Regions from separate parts of the Homo sapiens genome. Here regions 1, 2 and 4 are each linked to region 3. The links come from fine-mapping of genetic effects on gene expression. A gene starts in region 3. Each other region holds a variant in brackets. All regions are shown on one strand. Distances are from middle to middle. Region 1 overlaps RNF182 (ring finger protein 182). Region 2 has its middle 60 kb from the start of RNF182. Region 3 holds the start of RNF182 (ring finger protein 182). Region 4 has its middle 20 kb from the start of RNF182.

Region 1 (8,207 bases), 40 kb before region 3:
GACTTGGGACCAGGCCTGGCTGATCACATACTCCACTACTCCCCTACTCACAAGGATTAGTCTAATGGGCATGTGACCCAAACCGGACTTCTCAAAGCTCCTGACTGCAACTCTTTATTTGAAGCTAGGGACAAGACAGGACAGGACAGGGACCAGGGGAAGGGATACAGAACCAGAAAAAGATGTATCAAGAAACTGCCATGGCAGCAAGAGGGAGAAGAAGAAGAATAAAGCCAAAAATATTAAGACAGTAAAGGAAAACAAGAGGCAGAGGTAAAACAACAACAACAACAACAACAACAACAAAAAACAGAGACAAGCCTGATGAGACCTGAACTGAGTTTCTGAAGTCAATAATGTATGAAGGTTTCTGTGAGCCAATAAATTCCTTTTTTTGCTTATGCTAGTTTTCTGGATGGATTTCTGTTACTTACAACCCAAAGTGCCCTAATACAGTTACCATGCTGTACTTGACGTTGAGAATTTATTGTGTTTTTAGATCTAGGTTCCTACTTAGTATTACAGAAATTTATATAAATAAATAATTCAACAAAACTCACAGGCAATAGGCATTCTCTAAGATTTCATTTGCACACGTGCACACATGCATGCACATGTACACATAAACACATTTACATATATAAATACACAAAGGTCATCAGACATATTTATTTATTTATTAGTGGCCTTTGTGTGTGTGCATTCTTTTTTATTTGGTTCTTTTCTCCTCCACCAGTATCAGCCTGAATACCACCCCAAATGAAATCTTAGAGAAACTTTACATCTGTACTGAAAATTAAATTGGTCTCTAGACTTTTTTGTGCTGTTAGGTTTTGGTATTAACTGTATGCTTATTTTATAAGTGAAACACGAGCTATTCATCTTCTGGAACAGTTTAAATACTGATAAAATTATGTGTTCTTTAAAAGTTACATAAAACTCAGCTGTAATTTCATATGATTCCATTGTCATTTGCAGTAGTAGATCTTTAATCATTTTTCCATCTCTTTTAGGGTTACTGTCCTATTCAAATGTTCATTTCTTCCTCAGTTAAATTTAGACATTTATATTTGACAAAGAAAAAATCCATTTCTTCTGGGTTTTCAAATTCATTGCTGTAGAGTTCCGCAAATTCTGTTATCGTCTTTGCATCACCTCTGCCCCTGATTGTTTCTTTTCTCACTTATAGTCTTCTAAATTGTTTTACTCCTTATTAATTACCTAATCAAACTATTTTACTGTGCTTTTCAAAGACCAACTAATATATGTATTTATCCTTTCTGTTACTTTTAATTTCATTAATTTCAGCTTTTATCTTTATTATTCCCTCTAATTTATTTTTGTTTGTTATGATTTTTTTCCCAATTCATACTAAGAGTACACTTTGTCTTTATGCTTAAATACTGAAAATAGCTAAAGACTATAGTGTTTCCACTGGCTACAGCTTTCACTCTATCCCATAGCTTGTGGAATAGATTGTGTACCTTTTATTGATTTCTAGATGGCTTGTGATTTGACCTTTGATTTCTCCTTTGATATAAAGGTAATACAGGGCCAGGCATGGTGGCTCACGCCTGTAATTCCAGGAGGCTGAGGGTAGAGAATCACTTGAGCCTTAGGAGTTTGAGACTAGCCAGGGCAATATTAGACTCCATCTCTATTTTTTAAAAAAAAATTAATAAATTTTAAAAAGGTTATATACTTTTCTTAAATTTCTAAATAAAATTTATTTTTTATTGCCATATGTAATTTCTAATAGTACGGGATTATGATCAGAGAACAAAATCTATAAGAAAATCTTTTCCTTTTAATTTATTATGGTGCTCTTTGTGGTAAAGTATATTTTTCTAAGTAGTCTAGAAAGAAATATTCTGTGTGGTTCTAGAATACCTATTAAACCTAACTTTTTAATTTATTCAATTTCTGAATCATCAAGGTATGTGCAAGGTTATCACAGGTCAAAACAAGTGAGAGAGGTTTATTTAAGTGTCTCACTATAACTATATTTGCATTTCTAACAGTTTTGTTTTACAGAGTTAGTGGCTATGTTAGCTTACATATACAACTTTATTTTCTTCATAAACTCTGCCTCTTTTTGTCATTATATAATGTCTTTCCTTATCCTATTTATGCCTTTAACTTAAATATCAACCTTTATACCTTATCTAAAGCTTATATTACTTGTTCTATTGACTCCGCATTTGCCTGGGATGTATGTGCATCCTTTCAACTCCATCTTCAATTACTTTATCTCGAATGTTTCTTATAAACAGCTGCCAGAGATGTGGTACACAGCCTGTAATCCCAGCACTTTGGGAGGCCAAGATAGGTGGATCACTTGAGCCCAAGAGTTGGAGACCAGCCTAGGAAACAAGGCAAAGCTCTGTCTCTACAAAAACATACAAAAATTAGCCAGGCGTGGTGGTGCACGCCTGTGGTCCCAGCTACTCAGAAGGCTGAGATGGGAGGCTCACTTGAGTCCAGGAGGCCGAGGCTGCAGTAAGCTATGATTGCACCACTGCACTCCAGCCTGGGCAACAGAGAGAGCATGTTTGAAAACACACACACACACACACACACGCACGCGCACACACACAAAACAGCATACTACTGGGTTTTACTTTTTTTTGGTGGGGGGGTGGGGGGGTGGGGACAGGTTCCTGATCTGTCGCCCAGGCTGGAGTGCAGTGGCATGATCTCAGCTCACTGTAACCTCCACCCCGCGGGGTCAAGCAATCTTCCCGCCTCAGCCTCCCAAGTAGCTGAGATTACAGGTGTGCGCCACCACGCTTAGCTAATTTTTGTATTTTTAGTAGAGACGGGGTTTTGCCATGTTGCCCAGGCTGGTCTCAAACTCCTGTACTCAAGCGATCCACCTACCTTGGCCTCCCAAAGTGCTGGGATTACAGGTATGAGCCACCATGCCTGACCTGGGTTTTGGTTTTTAACTCAGTCTGACAATTTTCCAATTAAAACATCTAATGAATTCTAAAAATTTGTGAATTTTCCAAGTTCATTCACCTTTAATGTAAAGGCTGTTATATATTAACTCATTCTTTCCTCCTCACTTGATTTATTTGATTCAATTCCAAATATTTCCCTCCTGTCATCTTCCTGTATCTCAAGGTCTGTGTTTCTGGTTAACTTTTTGTTCAGTTACTTTTTCTTTGTATTATTGAGTATCTTTGTCAGAAAATAGGTGATGATATTTCTAAATTCTTATGTAGTAATAAATTTCCTCCTGACAGGGAAATGTATGGGATTTTCTGGCTGCTGTCTTTTTTCTCTCTGAAACCAACCCAGTAGTCCTATAGACTATTCTTTTGTATAAACATAGATTGCCCTTTCTTGTCTTAAAGCTTAAAACTTGTATTTGTTTTATCTGAGCTCCGTCCTCAGGAGAGTACTTCCAGTCCACTCAAAAAAAAGTATCAAAGAACTGAAACTCACCAGATCACCACACCAGATCCTTGAGGGGCCCCTCACTGATCATGATTGCTTCCTTGCCCCTCTCTAGTTCCTGTTTTCTTATACATTGTTACATTTCTGCCCTGCTATATAAGCCCTCGGTTTTAGTCTGTCAGAGAGATGGATTTGAGAAGGATCTCCCATCTCCTCAGCCCCAGCACCCAATTAAAGCCTTCTTCCTTGGCAATACTCATCGTCTCGTGATTGGCTTTCTGTGTGGTGAGCAAGTAGGGCCTAGACCAAACCCTTGGTATTTTGGTAACATCTCCATGGCCTGCAGAAATTACTATTTCTAGTTTTCTGTGTCACAGATGAGAAATCTGCTGCTAGTGTGATACTTCTTCATGGTAAGTAATTTGCTCTGTCTAGAAGCTTCTAAGATTTTGCCTCTTATTCTTAATATATAGTTCAAGAACTTTTCCAATAAATCCAGAGTGTCTTTTTTCATAAATTTTGCCTGGAACTTAATAAGCTATTTGAATTTACAGACTCAAGTCCTGATTTTTAAGCTCAAAAAATTTGTTTCTTATATTTACTTAATTATTGCCTTTCCTCCATCTGTTCCTTTTTCTCTTTCTGGCTTTCCTGTTACTCACATGTTATATTTCCTGGATCTATTTTCTTTTGTGGTTTCCATTCCTTTATATTTTTGTTCTGTACTTTCAGATTCTTCTAGCTGACCAACTAGGCTACCAAATCAAGCCCCAAGAATGATCATTATCACCTTCAGTTCATTTACTAAAATGT[T/C]TGATGGGGAAATCATGCATTTCATCTCTAGAAAGTCTTCTTGTGCTGCATCTGCATCTCCTTATGTGCTCTTTCTATTTTTTGTCAGGTTGTCATCTGTCTCTGGCTGCCGCTCCATCACATTCAGCGTGAGTTCTGTCTGTTCTCATAGACTGCCTTCCCTTTGGCTACAGTGCCAATATTTTTCTTTGTTATATCACTGGGGTTCAGGTCTGATTGTTGAAGGACCCATGGAACTGAAGTTCTATGAGTAGGGTGAAACACAATGGTCTCTTCTCCTGTGATCTAGCAGTGTGACAGCAGGTGGGCTGCCAGGACCCTTCCAAGGTCTCCTGCTCCAAAGGACGCACCCAACTATGGATTTTTCTCCTTGGTCTCTTGTGGAACACACACACTATGGGGTGAGGGTGAGTTTCAGTTTTCCTCCCAGGAGTCCCCACCCTCTGTAGGTCAAGTTCATCACAGTATCCAGTGCATCCTGATCTTCTGGTGGGACTCATCAAATGGATGCCAGCCCTCGGTACCAGCCAAGCCTAGGAAGGAATCCCCCATCTGCTCCCCACTCCCCACCCTCAGCTTTCACAAAGCTTGGGGTTTCACTTGCACTCAGGGGTCTGCTGGCTCCAGGAGTCGTTGGGATCAGGAAAGGCAGATAGAGTAGAATTGAGAGAGCAAGATAGCAAGCCACTTTAGCTTGCTATCTTTCAAGAATCCTTGCCAACTATAATTCCTGGAGTTTTTCCCAAATATTTACCTAGATGGAAAAATGGAAATTTGTGATAAAAGTTTAATTTGGGCAGAACATTGGCAATACTAAGCATGTTCAGCGGCTATTACATAAAGATATGTACCAAACTGATACTCATCCCTAAGTTAACTGTTTCTGAAATTCACTTTTTAGAATTCTCCTTTTTGCATATTATTATTTTTTACTTCCTCTATATCAAACTGTCTCATTCTAAGAATCCATAAACTGGACACTCAAGGGTATGAGAATCATTTTCCTTTGCCTTTGGCTATCTTTCCTAAATAATGCCTTTCAAGTTCTACCTTTTAATTCAAAGACCTGTATTTCTATATACTAGTTAGATAATGATTCTTTTTTTTTTTTTACATTTTAAAAAATTCGTGTTTTTCTTAACTGAGATTGTCTTGAGTCTTTGCTGTTTGGATCTTGAACTGTTTTTGGGTCTTCTTCCCCACTTTTTCATGATATTACCCTTCAATTTCAAATTTTTTAATTTATTACTAAACCATCTCCCCTAAATACTCTTTGCCCTAGCCCCTATCATGTGTGGCAACTTGTCTGCAAATATGGCTGCAATAATTCTCCACAGACCTGTACAAATACTTTCTACAATGTGATCTTCTTTTCATCTGATCAACAAGTAGAGGAATCTGTTTTTCCCCACCCCTTAAATCTTGGCCTTGTGACTTGCTTTGACCAACATTAAGAGTGTGAAGCAAATTTCTGACCTCAGGGTGTCTTGAAGCTTCTGCTCTTGCTCTCTTGGAATTCTGAGACCACCATCAAAGAAGCCCAGGCTAGCCTCTCTGAAGATGAGAAACCATAGAGAGAAAGGCCCAGACAAAAGCCAGCACCAACTCTAGTCATGTGAGACCATTAGAGACCATCCAGCCTCAACTAACCACCAGGGACAACACCTGTTTGAATGAGTAGCACCATGAAAGAACAGCTGAAGAATGTGCCCCACTGAGCCCAGTAGAAAATGCTGAGCCACAGACTCATGAACCAATAAAATGGCTGTTGTTTCCAGCCACTAGTTTTGAGGTGCTTTTGTAACAATAGATAAGCAAAATAGCATGCTATTTCTTTCCAAATTAATCCAAAGCCAATCTCTGCCCAAAGAAATTATTTCCCTCATTTATCAATGAGTATCATGCCTACCTAGAAGACTCTTTTATGAACTTTGAAGCTGTCCAATCCATACATCTTGCAAGTTCTGTCAGTCAAAATACAGTTTCTATGTATTCTTCCATGCATAAACTTTAATAATTTGTATTATGATAACTTCTATTAATTCAAGTCTTTTTAAAAAGCTCAAAAATTTTAGAAACACTGCATAAGCTCTACTACAGTAAGGGGAAATTATAATTCCCACTTAATAGGCATATGAACATCCATTGAAGTATCTTTCCTAAGATTACATAAGAAGTCAGGACAAAAAAAGTCAAAATAAGTAGAGCTCAAAAAAACAAAACAAAAAACAGAGCTGTCACTGTGATCCTATTATCTATCCAGGGCTCTATGCTATGTATTACTCCACTGTCCATATGAATTAATTGTATAGGTCTTAGGGTAAGTTGAGTTTCTTCAAAATATTTCATATACAGTTTCATGTAGCCTGAATCATTCTTATAGAATCCATCAACCATTTTAATGCGGCATCAACAGGAGAGATTATATTTTTCCCCTTATGAAAAGACAACTGTCAAATTTCAACTCTCATTTCCAAAATATTCCTCCCATCCTGGAAAATAAATGTTGTAAACACTGCTTTCTAGATGATGAGACAATATATTTTAAATGGCTCTGTAACAAGAAAACTGATAGAAGTTAAGGTATTGTCATTTTCATTAACTATGGTTTCTGTTTTTATAAATGGTGCTAAATACCTGCTTCTATGTTCAATTTATTTTGTGCAAAATGGAGAATCACTCTTCAAACACTTTCACTTCTTGATTATCAGTTTCTATGATGTCTTAAATTCTTTGACTAATAACTCTATCTTCAAAAACATATGAGAGATTCTAGCACTTGTAGCATCATTTTTCTTTGTGACTATCAAGGCAGAACATTGGTTTTTACGCTCAGCTATTGATAAAGTACACATGCTTGCCATCTCTCTGACACCCAATTGCTCATTCACAAAACCCGATGTTCCTAACCTCATTATTTATGGAGCTTGAGTCTCAAATTAAGCTTAAACCACACATGTGGCATCTACCTCCAAGAAAGTCCAGTTTTTCCACCTAGAGATTCAGAAGCTGGATTCTAGTTAGAGCTTAAAAGACTCTCATTACTGTTAATAATTACTAACAATAATATGTTGGCCTCAGTCCCAATTATCAGTTATCCCTTAGTGAGCATTAACAATAGTTGAACTTTGTAGAGACGATGGTCTCAGAATTAAGGGTTTTACTATGCCTTTCATTAAAAACTATGCCTTTCATTAAAATGCCATTCAAAAAAATCCTTCTCACTATAATAAAAGTCTCCAACTCAAAAATCCTAAAAAGAATAGGCTCAACAAATGCCAAGTACTCATTCTTGAAGGACCATCAGCTGACTCTAGAAGAATTTAACCCACAATACCCATAACCCCTAATGGTTGTTTGGCAGCATAAGGAGCAATTCCAGAAAGCCTCCCTCAACAATTAAAACTCTTACCTCCCCCCTCCTCCAAGAACATGCAATTTAATTTGATGGAGAGTCATAATCTATTTATTAGGATACAGCCAAGTTAATAACCTAGCAATCTAAGTTATTAATTTTGGAAGAGAGGCCACTATTTTTATATATGGAGTTGTGATTTATGCTGTGCTGTTTGCCAGCAGTTTTAAACCAATAAATGTTCAGGAATAAGAGAGAAAAAAACCAGGTACTCCGCACCCTATATTTAGGTATCCACATCTGCTTTCTTCTTCAAGACTCTGGAAGTGCAGCCAGGAGTATGACCATCCCTTGCAGGCAGTCTACAATGGAAGCACATAGCATCTAGAGTCAGGAGACCGAGATTTGGGACCTGGCTCTGACACTGTGATCTTGGACTAAAAGACAACACCTGCCTCACAAAGTGGTTGTGAGGATTCAATGGAATCATTTAGGTGTAAATACTTTACATACATAAGCACTATATGGATGCGACTAGAAATTTAGAAATAATGGATCCATTGATATGGTACTTCAGCATTCTAAATTGGTAGTAGACAGAATATGCATTGAACACAGTATCAGAAGGTATACAGGT
Region 2 (8,207 bases), 59 kb before region 3:
AAGACATTTTGAGATGAGATCAGGCACGTTCAGAGTGGTATAGCTGTAGACGGAAAGATATTTTCAGACATGCAGGGTCTTAGCATTTTTACCTCCATGCATCTTTTTCTCCCAGCAAGCTAGTAGAGAATGTGCTTTCTTGTCAAAAAATGAATAAACCTAGCAAAAGACGGCAAGGGACTCAAGAAAAGGGGATCAGAGAATTCTCAGGATGCGTGGCTGGCAGCTGTGCAGAAAGTAACTAATCTGGATTAAATCAAGAGAGTGAAGGGCTCCAGGAGGGCTGTCGCCATGAGAGTAAACTGGCACATTATCTATCACGTTTGACAGAAAGGAAAGGTTTCTTCAATAATCATAGACTCTGGGGATGCTTCAGTTATACATACAAAGAAAACTAAGCAAATTCTAAAATGAGGCAATTAATTCCAGGGAAAACAAAAAGTTGTATATGAAAGAAAATGTATTCACAATACACTAGAACCTCAGCTATGAGTGATATTAGATAGTCATAACAATCTAAACACCAAATGTTGATTTTACCAAGAATTGTGATATAATTATATTGGGAACATGTAAGAAGTGAAAGAGTGTGTGTGTGTGTGTGTGTGTGTGTGTGTGTAGGGAAGGTCATAAGAAAATTAAGTCATTTTCCACAATAGAATATCGATAGATAATGGCTAAAATTGAAAAAAAATTAAGAAATTATCATATAAGTACAATTTTCAGAAATATGGAAGTAAAGAGAAAGAAATATTTAAGAGTAGAAAGTGGTTGCCCTTAGGAGGACAGGGAAGGATGGTTCAGAGGCACCTGTTTTTCATTAAAAGTGCTTAATACTATGTAACTTTTAATACCATGAAGATGTACAATTTTAATAAAAATAGAAGTTACTTTTTTGAAGAGCTATCAGTCCCTCTGAGAAAGCAGTTTCAGTGAAGTTGTAAAAGCCAAAACGCAAGCCACTCGAGAGCATGCATGGGTGATGAGAGCGAGTGAGTGAGAGGACGGCGTCGGGACCCATCACCAGAGTGGAGGTCCATGCACTGAGGGAGCAGGGCATGCAAACATCATCTTCCTGGATCTGATCATGATCCCAGGTACCGAGGAGGTCAGAATGTCATAGGGTGCTCTTTACACGATGCAGTAAAATTGCCTCAAAGATGATTGCAACTATCCAGGTAAGGGTCTAGATTAGGGTGCTGCACAGGGTAAGGAAAGATTATGTGAAAGCCTCCTGATTCTGATCATTTGTCACTCAAGTACTGACCTCTCACCTCAACGCTCTTCCTTTCCCTAATGACTACAGCCGTCTGCTTGTATATGATAAAGCTCTGTGTCTGCTTATGAATAAGTTTTCACTTCTCACATGCTTTGACCTTACTTCTCGAGAACAAAATGGGATGTTGAAGAATGTAGGTGATTATTTCATATCCTCATTACATATTTTTGTAGCTAGACATAGCTTCTAAGCATAAAATAATCTCTGTCCCACTGCATATTTTGTTGTCCATAAAATTCAGTAACCCATGTGGGAAAAATAAATTGACGGCTATTGACAAAGAGACAGGGGAGTGTAGGGTAAAAAGCAGACTGGGACTTCAGTGGTCCTTATTAGAACCTATCTCTCGCCTTTGTGAGAGGGATCATTTCTAAGTGTTGGTTTCATCATTTAAAACAAGGCAGCTTATAAGTGTGGGTTTAATCATTTAAAACAAGGCAGTGTCTACGTGTTGGTTTGATAATTTAAAACAAGGCAGTTGGCCTCTGATATATAAAATCTTTCCAGCCCTAACGTTCAATGACCAAAACTTTAAAAATCTGGTACATGTTTTCCAACAGTTGGAATATTAGGTCTATTCTGAGAATTAGCTGTGGAAGTTTCATAGGCTCAAAAAATAACTAGCACTTAATTATTCCACTTGAAATCTCCTTCTACATATATTTAGATATTTAGTAGGGGCTAGAGACAAAGCTTGAATATGTCATTCCATGAAAGTCTGACAAGAATTGTTCATTGTAAATTGTTTTATGTTGGGAACAAGTGTAGGGATCAATACTCCTTCACTATCCATGCTCCTGGTGGTCTGTTCCTTTGCCCCTTTGCACTTTGCCACTCTCCTGGGATGCACTGCCTAATTGTGACTTTTTGACTGCCTTTTAGATTCATGCACTGGTTTCGTGATTTCTGTCTGCCTTCAGATTCTATATTATGACTTTTATCAATTCTGTATTGCAGAGTTCACAAAATATGCTCCACAGAACACTAATTCCACAAAATATTAATAGATGTTTTGAGAAAGATTTCCATGGTTACATAGTTTGGGGGAAACATTGGATTGGACTGCTAAATAAGTTTCTTTAACCAAATGACTTCTCAGGCCCTTTCCTGCAGCAACACTCATGAGAATCTCTAAAAGAAAGATGCATAGGCACAGCTTCTGAGCAGGCACAGCCAGGAAGTCCTCCTTTCCTGGGCCAGCTACTGAGACATGTTTTATGTCATATATTTTGAAACTACTGCTTTAATCAGATACACCTTGGAAACATTATACTTGTCTTTATATCCTTCCAATGAGTTGTGACATGTATGGATATCTTGTCAAAGAATCAAGAAATATTTATATGTTATGCATCATAAGTAGTCAATATTTGAGTTAAAATAATGAATCTTTAGGTTTCGTATCAAAAACTTTGGCAAGGTTCCCATTTGGGATATAAAGCTGTAAGTAGGAAAGAGGGTTGTCTTCATCCATTTTTGCATTACTATAAAGGAATACCCGAGGCTGGGTAATGTATAAGGAAAAGAGATATGTTTGGCTCACAGTTCTGTAGGCTGTACAAGAAGAATGGCACCAGTGTCTGCTCAGCTTCTGGTGAAGTCCTCAGGCTGCTTCCACTCATGACAGAAGGCAAAGGGGAGCCTGTGTGTGCAGAGATCACATGGCCAGAGAGGAAGCAAGGGAGAAGGGGGAAGTGCCAGGCTCCTTTAACAACCAGCTCTTGGGGAACCTAACAGAGCAAGAACTCACCCTCTAGCAGGAGAAGAACGGCACCAAACCATTCATGAGGGATCCACCCCATGACTCAAACCTTTTGTTAGGCTCCACCTCCAACATTGGGATCAAATATTTAACATGAGGTTTCGGGGGACAAGTAAGTATCCAAACTATATCAAAAGTCTGGTAATTAGCAGTGCCACCTTCCTCCCGTTTCAAGGACAGAATTTAATATTCTTTGGTCTCCCAATGACCACTTCTCCGTTCTCCACTCTGGCAACAGAAAAATCCCACAAAAGTAGGGCATATTGTTTATTCCCTCTTAACTGGTGATTAAGAGTTGGTCAAATTATAGGCTAGAAATAATTTCATAATTTTTAAAATTCTAACCAACAATAAAATTTGTAATGACAGTAAATTTAACCATAGAAATACACAGTTCAAACTGGAATCTCTTGGAAAAAAAAAAAATCACATCAGGTCAGGCGTGGTGGCTCAGGCCTGTAGTCCCAGCACTTTGGGAAGCCAAGGCGGGCAGATCACGAGGTCAGGGGATTGAGATTATCCTGGCCAACATGGTGAAACCCTGTCTCTACTAAAAATACAAAAATTAGCTGGGTGTGGTGGCACATGCCTGTAGTCCCAGCTACAAGGGAGGCTGAGGCAAGAGAATCACTTGAACCCAGGAGGCGGAGGTTTCAGTGAGCCTAGATTGCGTCACTGCCCTCCAGCCTGGCGACAGAGCGAGATTCCGTCTAAACAAAAACAAAACAAAACCAAAAAAAACACAAAAAACCGTCAAATGGAATCACTGTCAACAACCATTCCATCATTTAGCT[A/G]GGAAAAATCTCCATTGCTCAGCTATGGTGAATATTGCAAAAGAGGGCACAATTACCTCTGAGACAAGCAGCCGAATCCATTGTTCTACAAGAAGTCATAAATGTAGTTGTTAGTCATCACAAAAATATTTTAAAATAATACTTAAATGGATAATCCCCAGCTAGTGGAAGACTAATGTGGTTCTCTTTCACAGAGCTTTGTTTCCTGAAATATAAAGCGTGTGTGTGTACAGGAGGTGTGGAGGAAGGTGGCAGTGACTGCGTTAGGTCACTAATGTCCTAAGTGACATTAAAGAAATCAGAGGAAATGGGGGAAGAAACAAAGAGCGCAGGAGGTTTTGGCTCAGCACATAGCAAAAACAGATGTTCATTTATTGACTAATGGTGTTATGTGGCATTAAAAATAACATTTCATAGCTAAAGTGTCACTTTAACTCTTTTGAAATGCTATGTTAAAAGATGAGCTCTCTTATTTGTAGGCACGGAACAATAAAAAGTTTAACTTATTCGGAACTACTGAGAAGGATTTACCATTAAGCCAACTCAGAATTATCTGACTTTAGTCCAGTATACATCTGTTAACCAAGACATAATTCGTGATTGGCTCAACCAAATTGGGACTGTATTGGCAAGAATTAGGGGCAAGTGTTAAGTTTAGAATTACACAGCATATATGTACTAAAAATAATGCTTACTAAAAGTTTGAAAACATTATCTAAAGACTACAGAATTTATTGTATGACTTGATAGATGCCCTGCATGCATTCTACTTGCTGCTATGAAGAATGAAAAAGATCTAACAACAGGGAGTGGATATACAGAAAAGTTCCAGCAGAGTATCAAGACTGGGAACACACAGTGAATGCTGTGGAGGAACCCACTGCCTGGCAGGGATTTTAAGAAGAGATGAAATGGTCAGACAATAGGCAAGAGGTTATTCTGGGCAAACAGGATCACTCTGAAAAACAGACTAAATTACTAGAATAACAAGGAAAGAGAGCTGTCTAAAGCAAAGAATTTAAGATTTGACAAAGATTGAGAATAAGGAGTACATAGTCTTCAAGGAAGTAATGATTCAGCAGATGAACAGAGAGCTGCCTATGAAATGTTCAACAAGAGATTGGTTGAGAGTGGACAGTTCAAGGCTAGAGTCCAGTGAATTATTTAAAGGTTAAAAAAAGGTACTTCACAGATGATTTGGGCTTCTTTCTCCTCTGAGATCATAGAAAGTACATTGGAAGATAAAAGATTGTGATTTTCATTCCAGTTTATGCCTTCAATAATTGGGTAACTATAAAGATGCATTCAAACCTTAAGATTTACTGAAGCTTTAGACAAGGGTTGGCTCCTATGGTTCTATTTCCTCCATTACACAGCTGACAGTCGAGGCGGGAGTTAGTTCTCACTAGAATAACACTCCAAATCTTTGGAAAACGAAGTACCTGTAGTTGATTCGTGCAAGGATCATTATTGGCTGTTAAAACCATCAGGTGAAAATTGTTAGGGAAGAGAATATTTGCATGGATCCAAAGTGTCACCCCATGGATTTTTTTTACAGTTGCACAGGGGAAGTAGAGACCACCTTAACTGAGTGATCAAACTGAGTGTTTTGAATGGGAGGGCAACCTTTCATTTTATGCCTCCAAATGTGATGTGATACAAAGGTGACTAAGACAACTTGTTGCCCAAAATCTGAGTCCAATCAAGCTTATAGATTTTTGGCTTACAGAAAATACAGGTAACAGAAATTAAACACCACCAAATACAGAATGCGGGACATCATACAAGGTAACTGGTTTGCTTTCTTCAAGAAGTCAAGGTTATGGGGAAAACAAGGTGGGGTGACTATTCCAGAAGGAGAGAATAAAGATATAAAAAAATCAAAGGCAATGTGTGAGACTAGACCAGATCCCGGTATTTTTTTTTTATTTTTGTTGGTTGAGTTTTTTTTTTTAAGTTACAAAACATATTTGAGAATAGAAAAATTTGAGAAAAATGTATACAAAATGATATTAGAAAGGTATTTTTAATTGTCTGAGATAATATAATAATGTTTTAGTCAAATTAGAGGGAAGTTCTTTATTTTTAAGGGTGATAGAAAACAAATATTGCAAAAGGTTAACAATTGACTCTAAGTGATAAGTGTACAGGTGATAATTATTCTATTTTCTCAACTTTTCTGTATCTTTGAAAATCTTCGTGAAATAAGCTTGAAGAACCTTTCTTTCTTTCACCATCCAATCTACTTCTGTTGTGTTCACCCAATCATCCTAACTCCCCCCTCATCCTTGCTCCCATGACCACTGCCTCTGGTGTCCATTCTCCCCCTCTGGTTGCACCATGACAGTGGCTGTGCCCACTGCCCTACTGAGCATTCAGAGTTATAGCCTGGAGAGCTCAGCCTCTCAGTCCTCTCTGGGCCTCAACATTTCTCTACCCCCTCACCTTCAGCTGCTATTGAAATACACTGTTGGTGGAAATATAAACTAGTACAGTCACTAGGGAGAATAGTACAGTCGCTGTGGAGAATAGGATCCTCAAAAAACTAATAAGACTGTGATCCAGCAATCCAGAGCATTTATCCAAAGGAAAGAAATCAGTGTATGGAAGAGACATCTGCACCCCATGTTTACTGCAGCACTGTTCACAATAGCCAAGATATGGAGTCAACCTAGGTATCTAAGAACAGATGAATGGATAAAGAAAATGTGGTATAGTACACAATGGAATCCTATTCAGACATAAAACATAATGAAATCCTATCATTTGTGGCAACATGGATGGAACTGGAGGACCTTATGTTAAGTGAAGTAAGCCAGGAACAGAAAGTTAAATACCGGTGTTCTCACTCATCTATGGAAGCTAAAAAAAAAAAGTTGTTCTCATAGAAGTAAAAAGCAGAACAGAATACCAGAGGCAGGCAGCGTAGAGGGAAGGGAGAGATGGGGAGAAATTTGTTCAAGGATACAGAATTACAGCTCGATGGGAGGAGTAAGTTCTAGTATTCCATAACACTGTAGGATGACCCTAGTTAACAATAGATTATATAGTTTTAAATAGCTAGAAGGAGGATAGTGAATATTCCCAACAAAAAAATGAAAAATGTGTGAGATGGCTATGCTAATTAGCCTGATCTGATCACTATACATTATATGTATCAAAACACCACTATGTACTACATATATACAATTATATTTCAATTTAAAAATCTTAAAAATAGACTATAAAAAAGAAGAATTGCTAAAGACTCCCAAAGCTATGTCTTCAGGCCAGACCTCTTATCTGGGGTAATAAGAATGTAAATGTAATGTGAACGTGAATGTACAAAGAAACTTTCCTTACACTTCATGCGAAAAACAAGATCTAAAACCACCTACTGTCAGAGCATATTCTTTCTCCTGTGAAATTCCAACCTTCTCAATTTAAAGTGTTAATATGTTACAAATCTAATAAACTCTTAATTAAAATGCTTGTGACTTTTCAGTTAATTGATGTTTTAATTAAATCAAGGTTTAACACTTTTAAAAATACATTAGCACAGATCCCTACTTAGTATACACAGTGTTCAGGATGTAATTTAATTTTTGATTCTTTTATTCATAAGCTTAAAGCACCTTCATGTCAGAACCATAAATGTCTGCACACTGAGTATATGCAGATTTGGAGTCTACCACAGTATGAAATGATATCAGGAACTGGGTTGAATCTGTATTACCTCCAGGACTCATTTGGAATTTACTCAAATTTCAACATTCACATTTTTTAAATCTCTCTTACACAAAAATAAATGTGTAAGGAAAGACCCAATACTAAGCCTACAGTTCCTCACAAAGGAGTAAAAATTCATAAAGGGTATTGAAGTAGAGAGAATAATTTAATAAAAGGGCAAAGATGTAGAAAGCACACAAAACTCTAACTTGGAGAGCAAATGGTTAAACTCTTTCAGGGACCATACCAAGACTCTCACAGGTTTTGAGTAAAGCTCTGGAATAATATGTGGTGTTTCTATGGCATTTCCAAGGAATCAAGTTGAGGTATTTTTTACCAAGAAGAGTAGGCAAAAAGAGCAAGTCTCAAAAAATGCAGAAACATAAAATCGTAGTTTGCTTGCATGATACTCTCTCTAACTCATTTGCATCTCATCTGTATCTCATGAACTATAAATATGAGCTACTCCAGAGCTCATATTCATAATGGCTATATCAGTTTGCCTATCGATACCAGGATTCATTTGGCTTTGGGACTACCTGGTTGACATACTAAGACATTTCTTCAAGGTGTCTTCGAAGCCTAGTATCTGTTTACAATCTGGCAAATACATATCACTTTCAAGTCTCTCGGCAGATATGCATGAGTTCACCCTGTAAGTTAT
Region 3 (8,207 bases):
AGTTGATATTTCTGAAGTGCTTAGAAAAGTGTCTGGCCCATAGGGAAGAATTCATAAAGGTTTGATTGACAGAGAAGAGCTGGAAGTCAAAATTACTGCAATCAGACTAAACAAGTTCTCAGTAAACCAATATACAGGAAGAAAAAAGGCCAGAGAAGACCACACAGAAACCTTTTATTGTAGATTTAAAATTCAAGAGTTTGAATAAACAACAATTCTTCAGTATAACTGTGCCCAACACATCACATGGTGATCAAATTATGTAAAACACCATGTCTGCCTTGAATGACTATAGCTATAGAAGAGGGAAGATGATTCACAACAGACTGATCAGAAACACAACTTCTCACTCAAATACAATATGTTGGCCAAACACACAGTTTTATTTTATAGTTCCATTGCCATCTTGATTATCTAAATCATGTACCTGACCAATTAGATAACATTTCTCATGTGGAAAAATTTTATTATTGGGCCTTAATTTGTGGTTTACAATGCTTAAAGTGCACTTAAACCACAATTCAAGAGAGTCACGTTTTAGTTAATTGGGAGGAAAAATGGAGGCAAGTGACCAGGACCAGCACCAGCAACTCTTTTGTAGGACTAGCCAGCCTCTGGAAATGGTCACTAGGTAAAGACCTCAGGTAATCTGCTTTAGAGTCTGGACCATAAAGTGTTAAAAGAGATTATTAGAGCCATCACTGTCCCCCAGCTTCCTGCCCCAGACTCCCTGACCCTGCCCTCCCAACCACCACCACCGCACCCCCACCCCTGCACCACCTTTGGCCACTATGCCAGCAGACTCTCAGTATGTATTGATCTCTTTAACACCTTTTAACTCACTGCTGCCTCTACCTCCTAGTTCTTTGGTTTTCACTTCAACCGATTATAAGATACAGAAGCAAGGATCAAGTTCAAAACATGTATGGAAATAAGCAATCACCTAACAGGATCCCAGATTCTACTATCCAACAAACCATGTCTATAAATACTCAAAATGCAAAATATAAAGATTATAATGTGTTTTTTATGCCCACTATTTTCTGATCAAATTACAAATTAACCAAATCATTTTTAAAATAAGCTCTGGAAATATAAAACTTTTTAAAAAAACATTACAAAATTAACTGGTAACTTTTGAAAAAAGGAAGGCTGAAAACAAAGGAGAGTATTTGGGTATCATACATTAAGAATTACATATAAAATAAATAATCCTAATAGCTGAGAAACAAGTAAGTCCCCAACTATAAGAGGTTGGTTGACTTTCATCAAGCAACATAGAATATATAGAAGGAAGCATTTGATAAACATTTGATGACTGATGTCCAAAACCATACTCCATAACTGCTACAAAAAATTGGCACATCAGGAAAACAATCGTTTATCTTGAACTATGTTTATATCACTTAAATTATGTACAATACTGTATAAAAGTATACATTTTCCCCAAGCACTTGTGGCTTACCAAACAGCTTAAGACATCTTATCTCCATTTTAATTGAAAACATGAAAAATGAAACACACGTCCACAAAAGTTTTTCAGCTTCTATCAATCACTATTAATAATCCATGTCACTAAACACCACAACCTATCACCATGACCATGTGTCTCCTGTGCCTTTTCTCAGCACAGTAGTTCTGACAAATACCCACTGTGCACAGCAGGTCAGTTAACAATACCTGATATTTACAGCATTTTGTCTTGAGGTCTCAGGGCCACACTATTCTCCCCAGCCACAAATCTAAATCTAAGTGTTTTGGTAATGAAGAAATCATTTAAAAACTACCATCCTTCACAAATGTGCTTTTATAAATGCTACAACACATTGCACTAGATGCTAAATTACCAACCAGTAATCATGTTATCACAGTGCAACTAGAAATTGCAAGAGAATGTTGACCCAGAAACAGTCAATAAAGGCTTCAGTGGCTTTATTTAGGCTGCCTATGCAGGCTTATATGGTTACAAACAACTGACTTTCAATGGCACAAACATAATGTTAATCCTAACTTAAACAGGAACATTTGTGGCTTTTTTTTGTCTTTGGATATGCTTCATAAACTGAATTACAGAATTCTTTCAGGTAGAATACAGCTATGGTGACAATTATCAGGCCATATTTTACAGCTTATACCAAAAATTAGGACCAATTTTACGTCATAAAATTAAAACCCGTAAGCTAAAATGCAGGAAAAGACTCCTACTCCCGTGAATCAGCAAGAGTGATGACTAGTATTTTACACCTGGGGATATGCAATGCTGTTGCCTGCTTCCACCAGGTGGCTAAACCATGGACAGAAAACACAATTGCTGTTTGCATTTTCTAAGGACATATTGCAGATATCATAGTATTTTTTCTTTCATTATCTGGTTATGCACATACCTCAGAACACTAGTAACACATATAAACATGCCAGATTATTGTTTTCCACTGCACTGACACAAGCTTCATTTCATGCTTCGGAGCTCTTATTAATAAGCCACTACAACCAAGCAGTGCATGCAATACATGATTGTTGATTTCTGTATACCGACTTTATTTTTTGGCAGAAAATGATGCAGCTCTGAAGAAGCCAAACTATATTGAATGTTGTGCCCGTGTGAGCTAGCAGCAAAGGCAAAGCACCGGTCCTTACTGTGCTAAATTCACCATGGATATCTCCGTTCTTCAGCACTCAGATTAAGGGCCACAACATAAATGTTTAGGCTAGAACTCACAGTGTGGGTTTCATCTGGCAGAAAGCACGGACCAAGTCCTTGAACTTGAATACTGGTTTTGCTAACAAAGATCTGAATAAAGCTGTTCTGTTGGTCCCTCAGGAAAAAAAAAAAAACACACACACACACACAAACACACAAAATAATTTATTTTTAGTACAAAACATAAAACTACATTCTCTGTCTATATAATGTGCCTAGGCTTCAATATCCTATTTGCTGTTCATGCTTAAGTGAGAAAATACTTTTCTCTCCCGTTTATCTTCTCAAAACAGATCTACTTCGTTTTAATCAATGTACGATTTTATTACCGTCATGAAAGAGTATTTAGCAGAGCATCTGTGAATCTTCCACAGGTAAAATTCAGTTTAAAAACAAGCCCAATTGTGAAATAACCTGCAAACTGTTAATTGCAACTTCAATCCTTTAGTTTCCAATACAATCTTCTAATGAAGTGGCATTACTTGAAGTTGCTGGCAAATATGAACAGACTGAGAAACCTAGTAATCAGCAGGCTAACAGGTGTTGAAATCCCAAAAGAGGGAAGAGGAATATTAAATAATCACTCTTTGCCTGACACCTCAAGTAGCTGTAATATGCAGAATTCCAATCAACTTAACTGCAATTCAAAATGATCAGTGGTACTGTTTTCATTAATTACTCTCTAGCAAAAATATAATTTCTTGCATTCCATATAGTTCTTTAAATGACCTATTCCAACTTATACATTATTTTACTAAGTTGGATATACAATTTTATATGTTAGATTATTTTCCAGTTATCAATATGACATCTCATATTGTTTAAATATGATTTAAAACAAATCTTATTAACATATATACAATTTCCTTCTGAATTGATCAACTGTATTTCTGAAAATGTATCTGTTTTCTTTCATATTACTACATGTAAGATGATGTCTAAGTACCAAAAAAAAAAGTCTTCACAGTCACAATTTAAATCTGTGCTTCGCGTCTGCAACAAACTATCACGAAATGATTGCAAGGGTTGGGGCCACTGAGAAAGGTACCTATAACCTATCCAGTGCCCCAGTGGCAACCGCATCGTGGTCCTCATCATCCCACTCATAAACACCGATGCAAACACCGCCCAGCTACCTGCCTCCAGAGGTGCTTTGGATTGCCTCCCTACACATAAAAACAAAAGGCACTTTCCAGTTCCTTACAGCATGAACACAATACCTTCTAGAAACAAAAGCAATGACCTCGGTGCCAAGTATCTCCTTGACAAAGTATCGGTACTGCTCTACATTCTGGTCTTGCTAGTCGGGGAAAGCCGGGCTACCCTTACCATCCAGTTATAGGTGCAACTGCACCTTCCAAAGAAAAAAAGGTCTTTCGATTCAATATCCAAACGAACTTCAGAAGCCTCCTCAAAATGCTTCAGCCACAGGCATAAAAATGGGCTCACTTTTCAGAGATTCGTAAAAATCTTTCGCTTGTCCCTCTTACTACCCTCCCAACCCCTCCTCAAAGAGAATGCCATGAAACATGAAAGTCCAAAGGTAAATACTTTCATACCTTTTTTTCCCCCAAAAGCCTCGATGGCACGCCAAGAAGGAAAATAACAACAACAACAGAGGGGCAGCTCCCTGAGCAGGTGCAGCCCGCGCGGGCGCTCCGCAGCCGCCCTCCGCCGCACAGCCCCTCAAGTTGGTGCCAGGACGGCGGCCCCCGTGGTGCCCGGAGGGAGACTCCGCGCGCGGGCCCCGGCGCCGCTCGGCCCGAAGTTTGCCGCCCCCTCTCCTCGGCGCGCTTGGGCGGCCCGGCGCCGTCCAGGACTGCGGGGCTGGCTGCTGCCCCAGCGTTGGGGAGGCCCGGCGTCCCGCCGACCCCTCCCCGGCCGCGGGCGCGATCGCCTTACCTGGCCGGCGGCGGCCCAGGGCCCGGGAGCCGCTCCGGCTGCGGCGGCGCCTGGGAGGGGAGGGAGGTTCCCGTGGAGGAGGAGCTCGCGCGAGGAGCTAGCGGGCTGGCGGGCGGGCGGCTTTGTCTCTACGGCGCTGAGCCGCCGACCCTGCGTCACCATGGCAACCGCCGGGGCCCCCCCGGCCCTTCCCCTCAGCAGTCCGGGTATTCGGAGAGGACAAGGACCCCCGATGGGCCGCCACCACCACAAACACGCCCCTCTCTCAGTCTCCCTCACAAACCGCCTGTTTCTCCCCAGCGAGAGGGGAAGGCTAAAGCGGAGCGAGCCCAGGGCCAAGTGGTATTCGCATCCTAGTAGGCACTCCTTTGCTTCCCCACACTGGACATTCCAACTCCCGTCGCACCACCATCCCCCCCACAGACACCCTCCACCACTACCACCACCACACCTTTCTCCTGTGGAGCTGTACCCTCAAAATGGAAATTCACTTAAGGGAGGAGAAAGAGCAATGCAAAGTGATAAAGTGTTGAGCAACTGGTACTCGGTTCTCCTGTTGCAACTGCCGCAGCATGCACGGAGCTGCCAAGGGACGCCGTGCCGCCTCCTCCCTCTCCCCCTCCTCCTCCTCTCTCTTTTAGCAAGCTTTGCCTCTGCTGGATGTGGTCTCACTCCACCCAACCCGTGTATCTGTCTTGTTGAGGGCTCCCGTAGGAGAGAGGGGAAAGGGGGCTTTATCTCTGATGTAAACACTGGATACACTTGTAACCTCAGAAGCTGAAACACAACTTTCAGGCTGCAGTATGGATCTCAGCTGCTGCCACACTGCGCAGCTACTGGCTGTGACCGCTAAGCATCTACCATGAGCCCTGAGTGACTCTGTGCCAAGGACTGGTCACGTACTGCAGGCCATGGCACTCAGGAGCAGAGAAAAGAAAGCTAACTTTTTCCTCTCCTGAGGAAATTCTTAGAGAGGGAGAGAAAAGTACCAGCAGACCCTTGGTCATGCTTCCTCTAAAGGACGAACTAGAGGGCAGCCTCCATGGGGGGAGTGAGTCATCCCTCCATACTGTTTTCTTGAAAGATCCGTTGCTGAATCCAAAAGCTACAGTGTCTTTCTTCAAACCCTGGGGAACATGACATTTATTTTTTGGCATTTGTGAATCACCAAAGGAATGTCAATGATTTATAATAAAATCCACGGTAGCTGATGTTTTCTGGGTTTACTACTTGAGAAGCCACAAAGCAGAACAATGTTATTGCCATTTGAAGGTACACCTATATTAACTAATGAAAAGATAAGATCTATTTCATGGTGGAAAAGGAAAACAGTTTGTTCCTCGGAGAGACTGGCCACTTTCTTGTAATGGGAATATTCTGAATGAAGTCAATAATATTCCAGATGAAGTCAAAAGACAAGGTCTTTTTGGCAGGCCATTAAGCATTTGGCAATACCTGCCAGAATTCAAAATGCACATACATTTCTCCCAGCTATCTCAATTCTAGAGATCTGTCATACAGAAACACACAAATGTGTAATGATAGATATAAAAGGATATGCATTGCAGAAGTTTTGTAATAGTAAATGTTTGAAACAACTTATATGCCCATCAATAGTGATATGGTTAAATAATGTGGCACTTCATACCATGTAATACTATGCATCCATTAATAAGAATAAAATATATAAAATTCATAGATATTGATTTCTTATTAAATGGAAAAGGGGGGCTCAGAACCGTATGTGTGGGTGATCCCATTCTGTACAAAAAAACTGGATATATAGGAACAGAACAAAAACATAGGGATAAAGGTCTATAAGAATGCCTACCTAATTGCTAGAAGTGGTAACCTGTTAACTACAAAAAAAATTGAAGGGACAGTTACCTCTTACGATGTACAATTTAGTACACATATTTGGTTTGTTTGGCTTTTTCAAATGAGCATTTATTAGTAATTTATCAATGAAGAAGCAAAAACAAAAAGCTTTAATAAATGTTTGTTGACCTGCATGCACATTACTGCCTGATCAAAAACTGAATACAGAACAGGGAGGGACCATTGACTTGGCCATCCCTGCCCTCAGCTGAAGGCTTGGAAAAGTCCACGTTGTGTCCCCACTTAGAGCATTGCTTAGTGACCTGGTCCTGCGTTATTCTGTGAGACATTCTTCCAGACATTCATTTTTCCAAAAGAGGTTTAGCTTTATCTTAAGGTCTGCTTCCATTCTGCCTCTTGGAGAAAATTAAAAGACTTGTCAGGAAACCATCTTAAAATGTGCCACCTTACTTACCAGGGGATATCATTTGAATAGGTTAAGTGGCAGCTTTTAGTCTGTTTAGCTAAACTGAAACTGAAGATACTAAAGCTTAAAAATTAATGTGTGGATACATGACTAGTCTTTCTTATTCTCACCATTTTTGAAATGAGGTTAAAATAATGAATTTGCTTTCCTAAAAAGATCTAGAGCTGCACAGTCTAATTCAGTAACTGCTAGCCACATATGAATTAGCTACTGAATTGGTATGTTCAGTAAGTGCAAAATACACACCAGATTTCAAAGACTTGGAACAATAACTTTAAAAAAATAATATCTTATTAATAATGTTTATATTGGTTACATGTTAAAATATATTTTGAATTTATTGAGTTAAATAAAAGATGTTATTAAAATCATTAACTTTTGTTCCTTTCCACTTTTTTAACATGATTATTAGAAAATTATAAATTATATATGTGACATTTTGGACAGCTCTGTTTTAGAATTAGTGTTTATAGCAAAATATCATTAAGAAATCTAAAGTTAGCTATTCTTCTTAACTTTTAGTTAAAATGTAATTACCTTATTAATGCTCCCCAACTCATAAAGATGCCACAGTATGGCAATTTCTGTTAAATAATTTCAACTTATTAGAATCCTATTATATGCAAGCATTAGCTTATGCTTTTATATTTTAGAAAGATTTTAGCACAGACACTAAAGTCAGATTACCTGGACCTGAATCTCAGCTCTGTTTATCAACTACATGACCTCAGCAAGCAATTTAATACATCTGTTCCTCAGTTTCCTTACCTATAAAATAGGGATTATAATAATACTTACCTCCTTGAGTTGTAAAAATTAGATGCTTGATTGTCTACAATGCTGAATAAATGTTAACTATTATTACTTTTATTATTATACTTTGTTGGTTCTCTCACTTTTTTTTTTTTTTTGAGACGGAGTCTCACTCTGTTGCCCAGGCTGGAGTGCAGTGGCACAATCTCCACTCACTGCAAGCTCCTCCTCCCAAGTTCACGCCATTCTCCTGCCTCAGCCTCCCGAGTAGCTGGGACTACAGGCGCCCACCACCACGTCCGGCTAATTTTTTGTATTTTTAGTAGAAATGGGATTTCACCATGTTAGCCAGGATGGTCTCAATCTCCTGACCTCATGATCTGCCCACCTCGGCCTCCCAAAGTGCTGGGATTACAGGCGTGAGCCACTGTGCCTGGCCAGCTCTCTCACTTACTCTACTAACCTTCAATTCAAGTTAGTCTATATATGTATATATAAATCTTTCATCTATATATAGAGATAAATCTCTCATTTTCCTTTAAATGG
Region 4 (8,207 bases), 21 kb after region 3:
AGTACTTTCTCTCCACAGCTAGAAACTTCTGCATACAGAGACAGAAAAATGGGCTTTAATGAGAAAAGCTCAATTGTGTCCTGAAATATTTATACCAGCTTTGCAAACAAGTATAAAACATTTACCAATGCTGCCTACAAACACTCTCTTGAAAAGGATACAAAATGTAATCTCTGATTCACCAAAACACACACACACACAAAGTTGTTTGATTTATCTGGTCTGCCAATTTTAGATAAATTAGATAACCTAATTTATCTGGTGTGCCAATTTTAGACAAATGTAGATAAAAGTCTAGGGTAGGTCGAATAGAACAATGAAAAGAGAAAATGGCAACTTAACTTGGAGATATGGAGGTAGATGACCTATGCACATAATTCTTAAAACATTCAGCATATTTCTGGTTGTTATAACTATCTCTTAACTAGGTATGAGATCTTAGAAAGTAGAAATTATATTTTATTTATCTTTGTATACCCCACAGCCATTCTATTGCATGAAATTTAGACAATAAATATTTGTAGAAATCTAGTCGATCAAATTTATTTTGTACTACTATGTGCCAGTTGCTGCTCTTGATGCTTGTTCTGGGCATTGTTGCAGGAGGAAGGTAGGAAGGGAGGGAGGAAGGGAATGAGGAAGGGAGGGAGGAGGGGAGGAAGGGAGGGAGGGAAGGAAGGAAGGAAGGAGGGAAGGAAGGAAGGAAGGAAGGAAGGAAGGAAGGAAGGAAGGAAGGAAGGAAGGAAGGTAGGTTGGTTTGTTTCAGTGTGTGTTGAAATGATGAGTTCTAAATTTAGCCATAATATAAGGCAGGAGAAATAGTACTTTGTTGAATAGATAAGCTCAAACAGGATCTTTCGATTTGGCTAATAGTCTGCCTTGGTGCAAGCCTGCATTACCAAGAAAATGCAATGCATAAAAGCTAAACTTAGTTGGTTAAATCCAAGCAGATCAGTTGATTACTTTCAGTTAAGGCAGGTAACAATGTCACCTTTGAGAAAAATAAAAATAGATTCTCATCTATGTTATTGACACTTGTATTTCTAGAACCCAGAAAAGTTCTTGCCACATAATCCTCAACTAATATCTATTGAATGAATATTAATATCATAACCTCCTTCTAGAGGCATTGTCTAGCATACTTGTACAAATAAGGCTTTCAGAGAGATGGAACGACCCTCTCAAGGTTGTTTAACTAGAAACTAGTTGAATTCCAACTGGCATCCCAATGTTTGATTTCTGAGATTCCAAAGTTGGTCATTAGACCAGATCATGTTATACTGCTCAGATCTTGATTCTGGTCTTATTGATGCAAATAAATGCAGAGAAACAAGTATAGTGAATCTATAGCCATGGCACCTGCCTTTGCCGCAGAGCCTCACTCTGTCCACCTTCTGTCTGATGGTATCTGAAGGGTTCCATGATAATCACTGAATTACATAACCACCCAAATGAGATTGTTCTTCCATCTGTTAAGGGCCATCAGAGCCCCCGTGCAATGAATTTCAATTTAAGGAGCTTTATGTTCCATCTGGAGCAAGAGGATTCATTCCTATATAAGAGGAAAAGATCACTGTGATTTTAACCTGGTTTTAATGACAATGACTCAATTCAAATTTAAAATTTTAAATGATGTTTCAATATTGTATGTTTCAGCACACTGAGAGAATCATCTTGCCAACAATTTCCAAAGTCACATTTTCACAGCAGTAAATGCTCATTAAACCATATATACATGAACTCTCATTGCAGTATTGTCTGTAACAGGAAAAAACTTGGAACAAGCCCAACTGTCCATCAAAGATGGGATAAAAAAAATTGTGTTATGTTCATACCATACAGCTATTAAAAAGAATGAGGTAAATCTACATATGCCAGTGTGACAAGATGTCAAAGATATCACAATAAATGGAAAAAAAAACAAGATGCAAAACGCCATGCGTGTTTTTAATACAGAGAATGACTGCAATAAATGTCAGTATATGCATATCAAAAATTTTGGAAGAATATACAATAAACTATAAACAGTAATTACATTGGGAAATAACATTATGGGATAATTTCACTTTATTTTTTATTTTTTGAGACAGAGTCTTACTCTGTCACCCAGGCTGGAGTGCAGTGGAGCGTTCTCGGCTCACTGCCACCTCCGCCTCCCTGGTTTAAGCAATTCTCCTGCCTCAGCTTCCTGAGTAGCTGAGATTACAGGCGCCCATCACCACACCCAGCTAATTTTTGTATTTTTAGTAGAGACAGGGTTTCACCATGTGGTCAGGCTGGTCTCGAACTCCTCACCTCAAATGATCCGGCTGCCTCAGCCTCCCAAAGTGCTGGGATTACAGGCATGAGCCACTGCGCCCAGCCTCACTTTAAACTTTATACATCTCGGCACCATGTAAAATGTTGACAATGATCTGTAATTTAAGAAATGCTTGTTTTATTTTGTTTTAAATATAAATAAGTATAATAAATAAATTTAAAATTAGAATAATTAAACTGAAAGTTTAAAATGACACTTTATATGTAAACTGAATATGATCCTTTTGGAGAAGTACTGTGTGTCACAAGCATTACAAATGTTTATATTCTTTAGCCCAGTAAACTTTAATACAAAAAAACTTTACTCATGAAGATATTTGTTACATTACCGATATAATGCAAAAAGTTGGAAGCAAACCAAATTATTAATAGAAGAGTTAAACTGCCATTTGCAATAAAATATTATACAGCCATTCAACATTGTGATAATATTGTGACTATGAAATAACATGAAATGCTTATAATGTCAAGGATAAATGGAAAAATATAAAATTAAATATTTAAATATGCTTGGTAAATATCTCAATGGTAAAGAAGACTATGAAATAACATTGTGTTCATTAAAAAAACTGTGTTATGTTCATACCATACAGCTATTAAAAAGAATGAGGTAAGTCTACATATGCCAATGTGACAAGATGTCAAAGATATCACAATAAATGGAAAAAAAACAAGATGCAAAACGCCTTGTGTGCCTCTGTTATAATGTTAAGGATAAATGGCAAAATATAAAATTATACATTCAAATGTGCTTGGTAAATATCTTAATGGAAAAGAAAATAGAAAGAAATATACCAGCGCTAAGTAATATCGTTTAAATGGTATCACTCTTGGTTATTTTTCTTCCTTACACATTTTTATACTTTCAAATTAACCACTTACTACATTTGCACCAGAAAAGAATGTAATCATTGATGTTGATGAGATATTAAAAAGAGCAACATTTTTTTAATCACTGGCCAGACATATAAATGTATTCACATTTTTTCTTTCATTTGACCCTTGGCTTCGTGTTGAGGAAAGGTGTGTTCCAAGCCACTGCCACTAGCTTTTCTGCTGTTCTGGAGCAACCACTCACCTCTCACTCGGTTTCTGTGAAATTCAACTACTTCATTAGGCTGAATGAGAGACTGAATAATTTATAAGAAATAAGATTTCCACAAAAGAAGATAGATTCTTCTTATGACTAAGCTTTAGCTTCACAAGACAGCAAGAAGTGATTGTTGGGGGGATCAACAATTTCCACATCAAGAGAATTGAATACCAGTCACGAGGCAGACATCTCCTTGGTGAATATGCTTTGTGCCAGTTATTTACTTCTCTATTTTTTCAGTGTCTTCACCTGTGAGGGTACTGTGTTGAACAAGAATCTTAATTTTAGTCTTAGAATTTTCCTAAAATGAAGGAAATGGGAAGTATAGTGAGGTATCTGCTGTGTGCCAGGAACATACTAGATAGGTATATTACCTTTAGTTGACATAAAAGAAATTAATATTCTAAGAGAGTCAGAAGTAGACCAAGGTAGTGACAAAGTTAAGATTTATTCCCAGGGCCAGGAGAGGTGGCTCATGCCTGTGATCACTTTGGGAGGCTGAGGTGGGTGGATTTCTTAAGCCCAGGAGTTCAAGACCTCATCTCTAAAAAAAAAAAAAAAAAAAAAAAAAAATTAGCTGAGCAAGGTGGCATACACCTGTAGTCCCAGCTACCCAGGAGGCTGATCACCTGAGCCTGAGGAGATTGAGACTGGTGAGCCACAAGCCATGATCACGCCACAGCACTCCAGCCCGGGCAACAGTGAGACCCTGCCAAAAAAAAAAAAAAGATTCAGTCCCAGGCCATCTAACTCTTTCTACCAAACCACTCTTACTCTTTAGGAGTTTGTAGGTTAAGGACATGAAGCTTCAGAGGGCTGAATGATTTGCCCAAGATACACAGCAAGCTAGCACCAGAGTCAGGGCCAGAACATAGATCTCATGAGGCCAGTTCTGTGTTTACTTTCTCTTTTCTCCATTTTTTGTAAAGTTCCTTGTAGTCAATTCATAGTTCATGATCATAAATC[A/T]CCTGTATTGCCCCTCTTCCGTTTTGTTTTGTTTTAACTTTTCCCCCTCATTTTCTGTCCACACTGTGTTGCCTTCCGGGGTTGTTTCTTGATCTGATATTGCAGCTCATTAATCAATTCTTCAACTACTGTATACACTTTCCACTATGTATCCCATCTCTCAGGTCGATTTTAACCATTATTTTTAATATAATCAATATCTCCAGCATGTGGTCCTTTATAACTTCTTATCTCTGCATCATCACAAATATCCAATCACTTCTTTGAAGTTCTTTTTGTGCTTATTTTAAATTCTTGGTCTATGTGATTATTTCTGGTTCCTACAGCAATACGACAGGACGGGCAAGATATGCTGCAGTAATGAGCAATCCTGGAAATTTCAGTGGCTCACACAACAAATTTTTATTTCTCACTCACAGTTGCATGGCTTTCCTTGCTCTCTAGCAACTGTGACCCAGACTACTTCACATTACAACTGCACTGTCTTAAAGTTCTTCACTGCAAGTCACAAAAATAGTAGCAAAAACAAAAATAAAACACAGAGAACTCACTTCTACACACATCCCATTAGCTAGAACTAGCCAAGTGGCCCCAAACCAACTGCAAGGGAGGCTGGAACGTGGCAGATGAGCACAAAAGCATTTGGTGAGCCCTCATTCTCTGCTTGCTTCGCATGTTGTTTCTCACTGTGCCATGCTCCCCAGATGTCCCTCAGCTCATTTTCCTCACACCTTCACGTTGCCCAGAAATGTGGATCTTGTGGGAGGCCCTAGCATATGGCACTCTTGTTAGATTTAAGGAGGGCAAGGACATGGCCCAGGACAAGGTAGAAAGACCCCTGAATCATAATCTGAGTTTGTTTCATCACTGTCTCCTACACACACACACACACACATACACACACATCCCTTCTTCACTGCCCCGTCTTCAGCACAATCCTGACCTTCAGACAAGCTTTTTGTTCTCCAACCCAGGCATTGCTCTTCAAGATAAATTTCCCCCTGATTGTAATCATCTACTGCTCAGGGTGTGGAGGGGGAACAAGAGAGGAAGGAACGCTCACTAGTGGACCCATCAGCCAGCTCCACTGTCTCCCTGATGTTATCTCTACCCCATGTCCACAGCACGGAACGGACACTGCTGTTCATCCCACAGGTGGCAAGCTGTGAGTTTCCCAAGGCAATAGAGCAGGGGGAAAAAGAGATTGTGGTCAACTTCTCCCAAACTGATGCGCACAAATGTCTTCTGCCTCTCTCTCGTTTCTTCCCCCACCAGGTCCCATCCTCACTTTCCCGAGGGATGTCTCTGCTGTCTACTTTCTCAGACTCGCACGTGTCTTTAACATCTCTGCCGCCTACAGGGTTAGGCTGGGGCTGGAGGAGGAAACCGGACACTGTCAGAGGTCCCAATTTGTCAGGTACCACAGTCCAGAGCATTTCTGCAGCAGATTTTCCTTTTTTATTTTTATTTTATGTTATTGAGACAAGGTCTCTCTCGTCCAGGCTGCAGTGCAGTGGCATGATCTTCGTTCACTGCAGCCTCAACCTCCTGAGCTCCATCAATCCTCCCACCTCAGCCTCCCATGTAGCTGGGGCTACTGGCGTACACCACTGCGCCTGGCTAATTTTTTCTATTTTTTGTAGAGATGGTGTTTTGCCATGTTGCCCAGGCTGGTCTTGAACTCCTAAGCTCAAGTGATCCTCCCACCTCAGCCTCCCAAAGTGCTGGGATTACAGACATGAGCCACTGCACCCACCCTCTACTACAGATTTATTTTTTTTTTGAGACGGACTTTTGCTCTGTCGCCCAGGCTGGAGTGCAGTGGCGCAATCTTGGCTCACTGCAAGCTCCACCTCTCGGGTTCACGCCATTCTCCTGCCTCAGCCTCCTGAGTAGCTGGGACTACAGGTGCCCGCCACAACGCCCGGCTAATTTTTTTGTATTTTTAGTAGAGACGGGGTTTCACCGTGTTAGCCAGGATGGTCTCGATCTCCTGACTTCGTGATCCACCCGCCTCAGCCTCCCAAAGTGCTGGGATTACAGGCATGAGCCACCGCACCCGGCCTCTACTACAGATTTCTAATGCCTCCTGGGAAATAGATACAATCCCAAGATAGTGAGTTTTTACTAAGGAATAACAGATCTCTTTTTCTTCTTCTTCTTCTTCTTTTTTTTTTTCCTATCTTGGAATAAGGGTCCATGGGACTGGCACTCAAAATATGTTACTTGACTGTCTTATCCCCGTTCTTGCAATGAGGAAAACACTTCTCCCAAAATATGCAGCCCTCATGAGCATGGCCACCTCCAAGTGTATTCGATTATTCCTGGAAGAAGCCTGAACTCAGCATTGCCTCTTCTCTCTAGGAGTTGTTCAGATCTGGACAGCACTTAAGAGAAGGAGAAAGGAAGTCAGGCCTGAAGCTCACGGGCTGGCTAGATTTTCTGATTTGCACCCTGCCTGGAAGTTGACTTTTATATGTATAATTAAACACCAGGAAGCAAACAAATGAGACATTGTTGTCAGTGTTTTTTATATTACGGGAAAAATGTATATGATTTGCTTATGCTATATGCTGAAAATATCATAAAAATAAATATTTCAGCTCTAAACTTATAAGCCTAAATCACAGTTTAAAAGAAATTGTTGCTTCTCCAACCACTTAATTGTATCAAAACATATCACCAGAAAAGTGGAAAGGTAAAATTACTTTTTTTCCCCTCCATCCAACATCCCCACTGTAACAGACGCTGTTGGCTTCCTAGTTCAAAACCATTCTCTGCCCGTTTGTTCCTTACCTGCCTCAAATTATAAAGGATAAAAGCCTCAGAAACTTGCCTTGCCAACCTACTTTTCAGCCAGAGTAGCAGCTATATAACCCAGTTCTGGCTAAAGGTTTGCTCGTTGGGGGAACAGGGATTATAGGAAACACATTTTATCTCCCTTAAAAAGGACCTCTAATAAGAAGAAAGGACTCTGTGGGCCGGGCGCGGTGGCTCACGCCTGTAATCCCAGCACTCTGGGAGGCTGAGGCGGGTGGATCACGAGGTCAGATGATTGAGACCATCCTAGCTAACACGGTGAAACCCCGTCTCTACTAAAAATACAAAAAATTAGCCGGGCGAGGTGGTGGGCTCCTGTAGTCCCAGCTACTCGGGAGGCTGAGGCAGGAGAATGGCGTGAACCCGGGAGGCGGAGCTTGCAGTGAGCCGAGATCGCGCCACTGCACTCCAGCCTGGGCGACAGAGCGAGACTCCATCTCAAAAAAAAAAAAAAAAAAAAAAAGAAGAAGAAGAAAGGACTTTGCCACCCCTTCCACTTGTTTGTTACCTTCAATGTAGTCACAATGTCTGGAGCTGTTGTATTATCTGGCAACCATGAAGCAGCATAGCTTAGCATGAAAAAGCACATGCTTGGAACAGCAGAGCAGAACGATAGTAGGAAGTGTCCTTGAAGTGTCCTTGAAGACACTTGAGCTGCTGCACCAAATTTGGAAATGCCCACCCCCAAACTTCTTGTTAAGGGAGATAATTCAATACTTCGTAGCATGAGCTACTACTTATTGGTATTACGTTACTTACAGCCAAAAGTATTCCTAACAATATGTGCCCTAAAGTGAGCTGCCATTATCAAAAGGAGCAATACTGAACCTCTGTAAATTGATTTTAAAAAGGTCAATAGTCAGGAAATGTACTTGAATCCTTTTGACTTGAAAATATAGAGGCCAGGCACGGTGGCTCACACCTATAATCCCAGCACTTTGGGAGGCTGAGGCGGGCAGATCACCTTAAGTCAGGAGACCAACCTGGCCAACATGGCAAAACCCCATCT

What was found.
Region 1: its variant is fine-mapped to the expression of RNF182 in whole blood (TOPMed, PIP above 0.99).
Region 2: its variant is fine-mapped to the expression of RNF182 in whole blood (INTERVAL, PIP above 0.99).
Region 4: its variant is fine-mapped to the expression of RNF182 in whole blood (INTERVAL, PIP above 0.99).

The regions. Positions count from the first base shown.
Region 1 is chr6:13,961,205-13,969,411 of GRCh38, reverse strand. All of the region lies in intron 1 of RNF182 (ring finger protein 182), which reads right to left. Among named protein-coding and RNA genes, the nearest start is that of RNF182, 40 kb to the right of the region's middle. The variant T/C (reference allele first, on the strand shown) is at 4,216.
Region 2 is chr6:13,980,609-13,988,815 of GRCh38, reverse strand. No RefSeq gene overlaps it. Among named protein-coding and RNA genes, the nearest start is that of RNF182, 60 kb to the right of the region's middle. RefSeq lists a cis regulatory region at 911-1,533. The variant A/G (reference allele first, on the strand shown) is at 3,836.
Region 3 is chr6:13,921,420-13,929,626 of GRCh38, reverse strand. RNF182 (ring finger protein 182) reads right to left here and starts at 4,675. Exons shown (of 3, transcript NM_152737.4): 1 at 4,604-4,675. RefSeq lists an enhancer at 5,280-5,780.
Region 4 is chr6:13,900,420-13,908,626 of GRCh38, reverse strand. No RefSeq gene overlaps it. Among named protein-coding and RNA genes, the nearest start is that of RNF182, 20 kb to the left of the region's middle. The variant A/T (reference allele first, on the strand shown) is at 4,379.